2 linked regions of the Homo sapiens genome follow. The protein of the gene in region 1 interacts with the protein of each later gene in a biochemical or structural test. Each region holds a gene or a part of one and is shown on either strand. Other genes may lie near its edges.

Region 1 (7,027 bases):
AGGTGACCTGAATCTTTTCCTCTTACAGACGTAATGTATGTAGGGTCACCAGCAATAGGATAATGTTGACCAGGCAACGAAACCAAACATTAAAGACTGAATGTCTTAGTCTGTACAAAATAAACTTCGCCAAGCCAAATGCACTGATAGAATACCATTTATGCTGTCAGACAGTACCTATTTATTCTTTATTTGCATTCAGATCTAATAACTATTCTACCTAATATCTGTGACCACACAAGCTCCACGAGGACAGGAATTCTTGTGTTTTGTTCTCTGCTATGTAGACAATTATCTCAATTCTTGGCACATCATAAGCACTCAAATATTCAACGGTATTAGTAATGTTTTATTTCTTAACGAGTGGTTAGTATATGAGTGTTATACTATTCTTTTGTTGTTGTTGTTGTTGTTGTTTTTGAAGACGGAGTCTCGCTCTGTCACCCAGGCTGGAGTGCAGTGGCGCAATCTTGGCTCACTGCAACCTCCACCTCCCAGGTTCAAGCGATTCTCCTGCCTCAGCCTCCTGAGTAGCTGGGATTACAGGCATGCGCCACCACGCCTGGCTAATTTTTGTATTTTTAGTAAAGATGGGGTTTCACCATGTGGTCAGGCTGGTCTCAAACTCCCGACCTCATGATCCGCCCACCTCAGCCTCCCAAAGTGCTGGGATTACAGGCGTTAGCCACCGTGCCCGGCCTATACTAATCTTTATCTCTTTTGTCTTAATCATTTTTTTTTTTTTTTTTTTGAGATGGAGTCTTGCTCTGTCACCCAGGCTGGAGTGCACTGGCGCAATCTCGGCTCACTGCAACCTCCGCCTCCCAGGTTCAAGCAATTCTCCTGCCTCAGCCTCCAGAGTAGCGAGGACTACAGGCATGCACCACCAAGTGCGGCTAATTTTTGTATTTTTGGTAGAGATGGGGTTTCCGCATGTTGGCCAGGCTGGTCTTGAACTCCTGACCTCAGGTGATCCGCCCACCTCGGGCTCCCACAGTGCTGGGATTACAGGCGTGAGCCACCGCGCCCAGCCAATTGTAATATTTTTTAAAAGCACTAAATACATTTTACAAACCTCATAGCATTGCAATTATTCGGAAAGTCATCCAGAATAGAGTTACGAAATAAATATACAAAAATAGAACCTGAACTCATTCAGATTTATGACTTTTATTTTGTAGGGCACACCCTCAAGCTACCACTCAGCATTACTGACTCTCAACTCATACAAAATTCTCACAACCTTGGTTATCTGATTTCTCAAAACCACAATGAATCAAAGTGACTTTAAGAAAGCAGATATACGGATAGAAAAGATAGCAAATTCCAAAAGAAGAAATAAATTATTCTAAGAAAGCAAGGAAATATTAAGTTTTTAGAAAATTATATTTTCAATATTGCTAAGTTTGAGGGTCCTTAAAAGATAAATTACTTTATGGCCCTGGGCATGCTTTCAGATAAGTTATACATTCAATGGTTTGTTATTTTTTATTTTTTTCATATTTAATTAAATCAAGGGTTATTGCTAAGATCTCTTACTTTTATATCCTCTTAGATTATTTTATACTAACAACATTATATTCAAAGGTAATAGTGTCTCACTTATATAAATTTGCTAATTAACCTAAGTTGTTTTGTGGTTGTTATGGTTTTTTTTTTTTTTTTTTTTTTTTTTTTGAGACAGGGTCTCACTCTGTCGCCCAGGCTAGAGTGCAGTGACATGATCATAGCTCACTGTAACCTCCAATTCCTGGGCTCAAACAATCCTCCTGCTTCTGCCTCCTGAGTAGCTAGGACTACAGGCATGTGCCACGACCCCTGGTTAACTGTTCTTTTCTTTTTGTAGAGATGGGGTCTCACTACATTGCCCAAACTGGTCTCCAACTTCTGGACTCAAGCAATCCTCCCAACTCAGCCTCCCCAAGTGCTGGGATTACAGGCTTGAGCCACTGTGCCTGGCCTAACCTAAGTTTTAACACATAGTTTCATAATCAATCAACTAATCTGTATTGGGAATAGGAAGAAAAAATGAAAATAAACCAACCTAAAAAGTGATCAAAGTTTTATACTCATCAAATTATATAACTTATAGAGGCCTTAGAAATTGTGTACATAAACTCCCAATTTTATAAATGAATAAATTGAGGGCCAGTCGCAGTGGCTCATGCCTGTAATCCTACCACTTTGGGAGGCCAAAGAAAGTAGATCACTTGAGTCCAGGAGTTCAAGACCAGCCTGGGCAATGTGGTGAAACCTCATCTCTACAAAAAAAAAAAAAAAATACAAAAATTGGTTGGGCGTGGTGGCTCATGCCTGTAATCCCAGCACTTTGGGAGGCCAAGGCAGTCAGATGGCTTGATCTCAGGAGTTCGAGACCAGTCTGAGCAACATAGTAAAACCTCATCTCTACCAAAAATATAAAAAAATTAGCCAGGCATTGTGGCACACACCTGTGGTGCCAGCTACTTGGGAGGCTGAGGGGGGAGGATTGCCTGAGCCCAGGAGGTGGAGGTTGCAGTGAGCTGAGATCTTGCCACTGCAACTCCAACCTGGGCAACAGAGTGATATCTCATCTCAAAAATAAAAATTTTAAAAATAAAAAAAAATTACAAAAATTAGCCAGCTGTGGTGGCGTGTGCCTGGACAGAGCAAGACCTTGTCTCAAAAAAAAAAAAAAATTAATTAATTAAAAAAAGTGAGGTACAGCACTGTGGCTACATTACATGCTCCCTTGCTTCTCTAATATGTAAATTCTAGTATCTAACAACAGAGATTACTTTTTCAGAATAACATAAAATGACTAACAAACCTGTTTTAAACCAGGAACTTAAACAGAAATTTAATACTGCCATATAAAATCACCCCAAGGTGTTAATTGAGTCCTTAGGCATTTTAAGATGCTATATGAGATTCTGTGTATGATACTAAAAAGTTTTTAAATGACCTTTGTATTTGAAGATCATATGGCTGAGAAGACAAAGGGGAAGATTAAAAATAAAAAGTTAATATGTCAAGTGTTAAATTACAATATGGTCAGGTGCGGTGGCTCACGCCTGTAATCCCAGCACTTTGGGAGGCTGAGGTGGGCCAATCACTTGAGGTCAAGAGTTCGAGACCAGCCTGGCCAACATGGTGAAACCTCATCTCTACTAAAAATACAAAAATTAGCCAGGTGTGGTGGCACGTGCCTGTAATCTCAGCTACTCGGGAGGCTGAGGCACGAGAATCACTTGAACCTGGGAGGCAGAGGTTGCAGTGAGCTGAGATCCCGCTGCTGCACTTCAGCCTGGGTGACAGAGCGAAATTCTATCTCAAAAAAAAAAAAAAGTATTAAATTACAATAATACAAAAACAAAAGTTATGATAAAACTGAACAATATAAGCAATATGATAAATGAAGAGGTAATATATTAACTCAAAAGAGAGTAAGGCCAGGTGAAGTGGCTCACACCTGCAATCCCAGCACTTTGGGAGGCCAAGGAAGACGATCGCTTGAGGCCAGGAGTTCAAGACCAGCCTGGCCAACACGGAGAAACCCCATCTCTACTAAAAATACAAAAATTAGCCGAGTGTGATGGTGCACAACTGTAAGTCCCAGCTACACGGGAGGCTGAGGCAGGAAAATCACTTGAACCCAGGAGGTGGAGGCTGCAGTGAGCCACTGTACTCCAGCCTGTGACAGAGTGAGAGTAAAACAAAAATGGACTAGATTTGTCAAATAAGGCTTCGTAGATAATAATAGCTTTTTATATGAGTACTCAGTATACAAAGAGAAATGTGACTGATATGGAGAATGTGACAAGTGCCAAATATTTTCTTCCTTAAAAAAATTTGGCCGGGCGCAGTGGCTCACGCCTGTAATCTCAGCACTTTGGGAGGCTGAGGTGGGCGGATCACCTGAGGTCAGGAGTTCAAGACCAGCCTGCCCAACATGGTGAAACTCTGTCTCTACTAAAAACACAAAAATTAGCCGGGCGTGGTGGCGTGTGCCTGTAGTCCCAGCTACTCAGGAGGCTGAGCCAGAAGAATCGCTTGAACCCGGGAGGTGGAGATTGCAGTAAGCCAAGATCATGCCACTGCACTCCAGCCTGGGCGACAGAGTGAGATTCCATCTCAAAAAAAAAAAACAAAAAACAAAAAAAAAAAACTTATGGAGGAAAATAAGTTTTATTACTAAGGCATCATACATCTCTCCTATCCATTTATCATCAGTGAATTGAGCATCTTTAATGTATATGAACCAAATTCAGTATGTTGATTCTTAATTTCTTGGCACTTGAAAGGAATCTGGAGATAAATAAAGCATGAAAATGTACCACAGTCATCATTTAAGATCACAATGGGTGGTAAAGGTAGGTATTAACAGATCTTCCACTTACAGTAATGGTGAACTAAACGACTGGACCAACCCTCCCTCAAAAAAAAAAAAAAAAAAGCCAACATAAAAAGCTGAAAGAAATGAAAAAAAAAATGTAATTGCATAAAATCCTAACAAGAAAGGTAAAATGAGGAAAATAAGATAAACCATATATTCTGTCTAAAGGCATTTGCTGACTGTGGAAAGATGGCTGAGAGGTAGAGTGGCACTTCTTGTAGGGAGGAGAAGGTGGGCTCACTGCGAATCTGCTGGAAGCACTGAGAAGCAAGCTGCCATTTCTGGCAGACTAATAGAGCTGCACAAATGGGAATGGAAGTTCCATATTCTGCCAAAGGAGGAGACACACACTTTGGAAGTAAGGTTACAAATTCTATCCCAAGACCACCCAGGTAAACCAAAAAAATTCTGAAGCCTTGATTATACACTGTTAGCACCCTCAGGTAATGAAATTTCTCTCTAGAATCAACAAAAGCAACAGACAATCGCAACAACCAAAACGTCAAATACTGACTGGAGTTATCAGAAAGAGCATGATACAATTATGCTTACAATGTTCATGGGGATAAAGACAAGCTTTAAAGTTTCAGCAACAGACCAGGAGCCATAAAAAGTATCATTGGAAAAAAGAACCACCAGAAATTACAGAGCTAAAAAATACAACCCAACTTAGAAACTCAATGGAGTACTTAACGGCAGATTAAACACAGTTGAAGAAGTGATAAACTAGAAGGTAGGCCTGAAGAACTAATCCAGAATAAAGCATTGAAATGGAAAAGACAGAGTAAGAGGCCTAGAGGTTATAGTCAGTGGGCCTGACAGGGATTTCACCGGAGCCTAGAGGAGAAACAGAATGGGGCAGAGGCAACATTTAAAGAGATACAGGCCAAGCACAGTAGCCCACACCTGTAATCCCAACACTTTTGTAGGCCGAGGCAGGAGAATCCCTTGAGCCCAGGAGTTCGAGACCTGCCTGGGCAACATAGGGAGACCCCATCTGTACCAAAAAAAATGTTTTTAAATTAGCCAGGCATGGTGTCACGTGCCTATAGTCCCAGCTACTCAGGAGGCTAAGGCGAGAAGATTGCTTGAGCCAAGCATGTTAAGGCTGTAGTAAGCCATGATCTCTCTACTGCACTCAAGCCAGGGCAACAGAGCAAGACCCTGTCTCTAAAATAAAATAAAGAGATATAACTGAAGACATCTCAAGACTGATGAAATGATTTAATCCATTGATTCAGGAAACCCAGTGAAGCTTAACCAGGATAATGTGACAGAGTGCTTACAAAAAACGGCCACAATATAATTTCACTCCCAGTACCCATGTCCCTTTACAATACAACTTTGTAGCTCTTCATATCAAAAGGTAGAGTTTATTTCCCTACCCCTTGAATCTGGGGTTAACCAATAAAACGTGGTAGAAATGAAGTGCTAGTTCTGAGCCCAGACCTCGAGAGGCCTTGTATGTGTTTGTCTTTTGGAACCCTGCTGCTGTCACATGAACAGGCTCAGACTAACATACTGGCTAATGAGATATGTAGCCCAGTCAACTATATTGCCCCAGCCAACAAGCCAGCCAATCCACAGAAGCAGAGCTGCCTACCTGGCCTGGCTGGCAGCTAACTATAGACCCACATGGGAGCCCATGTGGAACCAAGACCACGTGGAGCAGAAAAGAACCATACAGCTGGGCCCAATCCAAACTACCAACCTACAGAATTATAAGCTAAATAAGTGACTGTTGTTTTAAGCCCTAAGTTTTGGGGTTTATTTCACAGCAAAGGGTAACTGACATAGAAAAGTAAAAACAAATCCACAGACATATCATAATGAAGCTACACAAAATTAAAGACAAAATCTTAAAAACAGGTAAGTGCTGGCCAGGCGCGGTGGCTCACGCCTGTAATCCCAGCACTTTGGGAGGCCAAGGCAGGTGGATCACAAGGTCAAAAGATCGAGACCATCCTGGCCAACATGGTGAAACCCTGTCTCTACTAAAAATACAAAAAAAAGTAGTCGGGTGTGGTGGCATGCACCTGTAGTCCCAGCTACTTGGGAGGCTGAGGCAGAAGAATCGGTTGAACCCGGGAGGCAGAGGTTGCAGTGAGCCGAGATCGCGCCACTGCACTCCAGCCTAGGCAACAAGAGTGAAACTCCATCTCAAAACAAAACAAAACAAACAAACAAACAAAAAAAACAGGTAAGTGCTAATATAATTTTTAGGAGAGAGAAATCATTGGATGGGGTTGATCTTTAAACATTCTAAGTATTTCAATTTAATAACAGTAGGAAGACAGGCATTCTAGGCAAAAATAATCACTATCTGAAGTGTAGTCAATTTTTTTTTGTGAAAATAAGGCCAAAAAGGTAGATGTGTTTGTTTAGAGTTAAGGGCTCATAGGCAAGCAGATATGGACTGTCTTCTAGCTTCACCACTAGCTGTGTGACCTCAGAGCAAGGTATTTCAACTCTGTACTTTGGTTTTCTCTTATTATAATGTAAATAATATCACTACTATCACCTACTCCTACTTGTTAAGGATTTTTAAATGTAAGTAATGTTGTGCTTCGCACAGTAAACTCTAGATGTTATTGACTTTCACTCTAGAGATGAAAACCACTAAAACTGTTGTGTTTGGGACAACAAAGAGAG
Region 2 (7,027 bases), on another chromosome or scaffold:
AAGAAGAATAGTCTTGGGCCACAAATAACATACAATAACACTAATGATAGCTGGAACTTAAAAAAAAGCACAAAATCTCATAATGTTTTAAGGAAGTTTACAAATTTGTGTTGGGCCACATTCAAAGCCATCCTGGGCCACATGCAGCCCATGAGTTGGACAAGCTTGCTCTAGATCCTCACCTGAGGGATTTCTGCTCAAATGGGACAGCCTCTAAGAACTTTCCCTAAGCAGTCCCCACTCCAGTCATTCTCTCTCCCCTTATAATGTTTTATTTCCTTCATAGCACTACTTACTTATTTAAGTCTGTCTCCCTTACTAGAATGTAAGCTCCATGTGGGCAGAAAGTTTGTCAGTTTTGTCCACTGTTACATCTTGAGTGTTCAATAAATATTGGGTAAACTAATGTATGGAAATGAGGGACATACAGCAAGTAAAAGTACTCGATTCCTTTCTGAAAATCTCAATACTTTCCACTAATTCCATTCTGTTTTTATCTATATATGAAGTCCTCTCAACTTCATTTGCAGATTCCTGGTAGCTTCTAACGCCATGGAATGGTTAAATCCGTAATTCCTAAAGCTGGCTTCACATCAGAATCAACTAGAGTGCTTTCAATAAACTGCCTTTCAAACCTGTAATAAGGCACAGGGCCCAGGTGATTCTGACATAGCTCATCCAATTTTCTAGATGAGGGGTTGGCAAACTCTTTCTGTAAAGGGCCAGATAGAAAATATTTAGGCTTCGTGGGCCGTATGGCCTCTGTTGTAACTACTAAACTCTGCCATATGGCACAAAAGCAGCTACAGACAACATGTAAACACATGGACATGGCTGTGTACCAATACAAATGGTGGGGCCAGATTTGGACCAGGCTGTAGTTTGGCAACTCTTGCTGGACCATGTTTCTCAAAAATTAATGTGCATACAAACCATATGAAGAGCTTGTTAAAATGCAGATTCTAATTCAGAAAATCTGGGGTAGGGCCTGAGCTGAAGCACTGCTAACAAGCTCCCAGGTGGTGCTGATGGTATCAGCATATGGACCAGCAAGGCATAACTTTAGCACTGGGTGCCAAACTTTACTGAATGCCACTATATCCTGTGAGGAATGATTTGACTGTTTTTTAATATGATTTCACATAATATGATCATACATTTTACAGGAAGAAGAATAAAGAACCTTGTTATATAGTTAGATTTTGTAACACAAGGCAACTAGGAACAATACTCTAAACACATTTTATGGTTCATAAAGAAATAAACTTGGCAAAAACTCCATTCAAAAATTCCTCATTAATAATGAAAGGACAGATATTCATTCACACACCTACCTATAAATAACATGGAATGCTTTCGTGCAAATTTCAGGCCTTCATTTCTATCGACTTCACGATTTTCCTAAAATATAAATGCAATGATTAAGAAAGGCTACCAAAATATAGAACCAAAATGCCAAGTGTCTGCCTTCTTACCTTATCGATTTTATTTCCAACTAGCATGTTTACTATGTCATTTCTTGTACAGTATGTTTCCAATTCATTTAACCAATTATCCAGTTTAACAAATGTATCTCTTCTTGTGACATCATAAACTGAAATAAAAGGAGTCATTTGTTAAATAAGCATTAAAGAAAGAAGCAATGGCGTATTTCTGATATGTAGCTAGGAGTTAGCATTACTAAGCAATATAGACAAGTCTTTTTTTTATTGTCTTCAACGATTAATATTGAGTGTCTACTGATCCAAATGGAAGAAACAAGTGTTTTTTTTTTAAAGCATACACATTTCAATCCTATTAACATATACTGTCACAGAAATGAAATTATATCCTGTGTAATAAGTGAAAACACATTTAATACCCATTAAAGCAAAACAACAGCTATTCCCATTCATAATGATGAATGAGGTCTATCCAAAAACCAGAGTGTTTAGATTCAAATCTGTGGCAAAATATTAAAAAAAAAATACATGAATGTAAACATCTATGACCCCATTAATTTGTTTATTACAAGAACCAAAATTTACAGCTTTGAAAAAATTGTAGTACAGTTAGTAGATGGGTTCCTGGTGGTCTTCCTGTTATCACTTTCATCTTATGTCATTCTGCATTATAACAAAAACCTTATTAAAGTGTTTTATAAACTCAAGAGATGCTGAACCAAAAGGCTGTCACTACCAAGCCATAATATTTAAAAAAAGAGAATTCTACCTATTAATACAATTGATCAATATTCATTTTAAACAGTTTCCCAGGAATATCAAGAACAAGCACTTTTCAACAAATTACACTGAGAATCCACATCTGGTTTCTAAATTTTGTTTGATTATAAATCAATAGTGTTAAGTGCTTTGTGATATTTTTAGGACTAATAAAGCAGATTCTACTAATCAACAAATACTTTTCGTCCTTTATAAACTACAGCAAATATTAATATGCTGATAACAGAAGCCCAGTTTCTGTAATACTCCAAGACAGTCCAACATATGCTGATTAATCCTCAATTACGTTCTCATTGACATGTGTTTTCAAACCAAATAAATTAGCCTTGTCTATTTTTTAAGTGCTAGACAAGACTAAAATCAAAAGTTTTAATATTCATTAATATTACATGAAGTTAATACAACTACAAGTTACATAAAAGTAGCTCTAACGAGAAGTAAAACAAAGACATATTAACTTTCACAGACTAGGACAATCAGAAACTCCAATAAATATTTTTAAATAGTACATTAAAGTAAACACTTACCTAATATAACACCCTGTGCACCTCTATAATAGCTGGGAGTTAATGTTCTAAACCTCTCTTGACCAGCAGTATCCTAAAAATGATCATTATTATTAAATTAAACAAAGTATAAATAGACCTTCAATATACTAGTTTAAGAGTAGAAAGTCAAACAGCATTACTAAAAATAGTATTAATGCATGAGCTCATTAAAAAACTGGAACTTAAATAAGATGTGTTCGCTTACTGACAAGTGTCACAAAATAAAATTATTTATAAATACTGATCTCTAGAAAAATGAAACTATGTAAAGGTTTTCTGCTGTTTTGAATTTAAGACTTTTATCATACATGAAATGAAACCCATGGTTCTAAACTCCAGCTGCACAATGAAATTTTCTGGGAATCTTGAGTCTAGCTTCCAAAAAATTTCTGCTTAATTGGTCTAAGGTAATGACAGGAATTTTTTTTTTTTTAAATCTTACCAGGTGCTTTTAATGTAGAATCAAGGCTGAGAACCACTGATTTGAAGAAAATTATGGGATGTCTTACTTTAGGTAACAGATTTTTAGGTTGGGCTCTTTTAAGTGTTTTCTATGTATCTCCTTTTGAGAAAATGCATATAACCAAGCCATTCTTTATTACATGTTATTTCTGACTCATGTTAGGGTTAGTGAACAATGTACACTAGGTAGAAAATGTAAATTTCATAAAGCAGGGACTCATCTGTTTAATCACCAGTTTAACCATTGTGCTGAGACCAATTCTTGAAAAAAGGCAGTTGCTCAGAATTTGTTGAGAAAAAAAAAAAAGAATGAACCTATTTAACAAGCCTTTACTTCCGGGCCCAATTCCTTCTCTCTCTTGTCTTTCTACCATCCTTGGACTATGGATTCAAGGTACCTAAGATTATACAAAGCAGCTCAGCCCACCACCTGTTTTATTAAATAAAGTTTTATTGAAACACAGCAGGCCTATTTGCTTACGTATTGCCACATGGCCCACTTCAGGATTGGACTATTTCCTATCTGGCTCTTTAAGAAAAAGTTTGCAGTCTGCTGATGCAAAGTAACCTAAAGAAAAGTAAAAGTAAAAACATGTATCAAACCTCAACTTAGCTACCAGTCCCACTGCTGTAAATGAGGGTTTGTTATGGGACAAGCAGAAGCTCCCCCAGATATAAAAATGTTAGAATAACCTGTAAGAGGTTTATAAGATTGGAGAAGAATTCAAACCAGGGGCGTGAGGGGCTTCAGCAAGACAGTAGGGAGGATCTGCAGTCATTTATAACCCCAGAAGAGAAACTTAAGAGGAAAGTAACGTTTCAATGTAAACCACTTTGAACATTCACCACTCTTCCACAGATACACTTACATAAATTTGAAAGCCTTTCCTTCCAGATCCTTACCACCACAGAAACTAATCCCCACCCTGCCATGCTTAAGTGAAGAATTAACAGATTTAAAGTAAATGTTCTGAACAGATAAATTTATAAAATAAATAATTTTTCTCTTTACAAAAATTCTCTCTGCCTCTAAGTTTCTTACAAAACCTGCCTTGGATTTTAAAATTATTCAATTTGCATATTTACTCACCTTTTCAAGAACAATAATATAAATTAAAAGCTGTTTAAAGCAAAGTGAACTTGCTATATAAAGCAGATTATAACTTTGATAACATGAGACAAGTCAATATTGTAGTCCATTAATCATTAATGAAACGGTATATGGATGCCCAGTGATCTTTTTTGATCACTATGCTCAAGTAATCAAAACCCAAATTTGCAGGGAAAAAAAAAGTAATCAACTAGAAGCCAAAAGATGTAACTACTATGCATATCATAGTAAAATGATTACTATGTGTATCAGTAAAAGTGTCACCACTTTTAGGAAGCAATTGGTAATATATATAATAAGAAACTAGAAATGCTCTTCATAGCCTTGTACTAGTACCTATTTCAGACAATCTGATTCATACTCAATAAAAAATGTATATTTTTAAATGACAAATCATTATGAGAACGTATCCTAGCTATCTGCTTACATGCAAAAAATGACAAATTAGTAATATTCAAATTATTCAGTATCCAGATACATTATAACTTTGAGAACTGCACCATGTTAAGCATTTAACTTTTAGTAGTACAGACTATCTGTTTTAGAGAGAAAGAAAAAAAAAAAAGAAGGAAAAGCCATTACTGAAAAGACAAGCCTTGGATTTGGAACAGTGAATTACTGAATTTGGAAATTTAAGAAGCAGCTATTTTTCTATACAGTGAATTAGTGAATTTGGAAATTTAAGAAGCAGCTATTTTTCCATACATGGAACACTGTTCTATATTCATAACAAATAGTTTGAGGCAAGGACCAAGTATGAAATATTTTAGCCCCAAGACTTTTTGATAACAGGAAGAAAGTTTATTCTATTTGCATAAGGAAACTGTATCCATAACTTCCAGAGCTGGCAGAAAAACAAGTGAACATGAACTTTGTTCTCTCTGGTCTTCATTGAGATCAACTTCAAAAACTGCCTTAATGAAACACAACATAAAAATCAGAACTGCAATTCCAGTTAAAATATCCATAAATCCTGATGTTTTAAAAGTAAAAACCATAGCAAGAAAGTTTTAATGTTGAAATATTACACTTGACTTTGAAACTTTGCTTGTGAATATTTATTAATAATTAGGCCAGATGTTTAGAGGCTTGCCATTTTTGGATTCACTTACAAAAGTGTTTAAATAGGTGTTATAATTTAGGGGGTGGAGGGAACCATGTGCAATAGCATCGCATCAGGATTTATAGTAACTATAAAGTGTATATGCTTAAATAGAAGTTAGATTGTTGCTTGTGTTTGTTTTCAAAACAGGAATATGTGGTAGGTATAATAACATCTTTGTAAGATAAATGAAGCACAGCTTTTTGTCTCTATCCTGTAGTTTTATTTTCTGATGGGGGAAGGAGAGAAGAAATTACTGAAAGATATATAGATAAACTCAGGGCTAGGAAAGATCTAGAAAGGCTTAATAATAGATGTAGGGAGTGAAAGTGAAGCAAGGACATAGGAAAAGGCAGTAGAAGAAAACAAGGTCATGATGAGTATGCACTTTCAGGAGGTAGGAGGGGCAGGGCTATGCTTAATTATTCTATTTCATCCTAGAAGAAGCTTCCAAGTAGGAGAGAAACTCATTTTATAAATAAAACTATAGAAGAATTAGGCAACTATGGATTCATATATTTCTAATACAGAGGAAACGCCTTCCTAAATACGTTACACCCAAATGCCATGATGAAAATAGCTGATCCAACCATATAAATATTAAAACCTTGAAATGACAAGAACACCCTTTACCTCCTCTTCACCTCCCCATCCCCATATTCATCCTTAACAATATTGGAAGGTAAATGACAAACTGGAAAAAAAAATCTGTAGCATATGGCAGTATTACACACACACACAAGAACACAAACATATATTCAACTGATACATGATTTTAAAGGCAAATGATAGCTTAGAAAATTGTACCACATGACAAAGAGCTAATAATTTTATTATATAAAGACTTTAATGAAGAAAAAGATGAATGCTAACGTATAAAATGGGTAAAATATGTAAAAAGAAAACTTATTTTTTAAAATGATCAATAAACAGGCAAAAATCTCTTATCAAAAGAAATGCAAATATAAGTAAAACAGCAACACTCAGAGGCAAAAACAGAAAGAATGATAACAGTAGAGATAAGGATGTGGCAGAATGAATATGAATACAATTGGTGGGAGTATAAACTGAAAAAAAAGGCTTTTTGGTGTACATTAATGTGAAGACTTCATATTCATTTCTACTTCCAGCTACACATTCTAAAGTAACTGGACAAGTACACACAGACGTATAAATCAGGATGCTCAAAGAGCTGTAATCTTTGTGAAAAGCTGGCAAAAATGTAAGTATCTCTCACTGAAGGCTGACTAAAGTACAGCTATGAAACGGAATACTAGCTGGCCATCTAAACGGATACAGCACATACTATGAGTGGGGGTGAGGTGGTAGGAAAGGAGGACAAACAGGTTTAAAAATGTAAGATATAATATAATCCCTTTGTTTTGGAAAACTCACATACTGGTATGTATAGTGGTATGTATACATATCCCTTGATATTTTAAAGAATGCTCACTAAAATGTATTCAGTGGTATACTTTTATAGATGTTCTTCTCTGCTCTTCTTATTGTCTCAATTATCCCTTTTAGAATGACCCTGTATTATTCTTACAGCCAGGGGGAAAACCTCTCTTCTTTAAAAAAT

Evidence for each region. The genes of interacting proteins can lie anywhere in the genome.
Region 2: the proteins of COPS4 (region 1) and RAB18 form a complex in vitro, tested with the Homo sapiens proteins (one study listed by BioGRID).

Annotation. Positions count from the first base shown.
Region 1 is NC_000004.12:83,038,169-83,045,195, reverse strand, and holds part of COPS4 (COP9 signalosome complex subunit 4), read right to left. Parts: intron 1-7,027. UniProt on the Homo sapiens protein: Component of the COP9 signalosome complex (CSN), a complex involved in various cellular and developmental processes.
Region 2 is NC_000010.11:27,528,302-27,535,328, reverse strand, and holds part of RAB18 (ras-related protein Rab-18), read right to left. Parts: intron 3,801-7,027; coding exon of another isoform or gene 3,714-3,800; intron 2,823-3,713; coding exon 2,750-2,822; intron 1,595-2,749; coding exon 1,476-1,594; intron 1,402-1,475; coding exon 1,335-1,401; intron 1-1,334. UniProt on the Homo sapiens protein: The small GTPases Rab are key regulators of intracellular membrane trafficking, from the formation of transport vesicles to their fusion with membranes.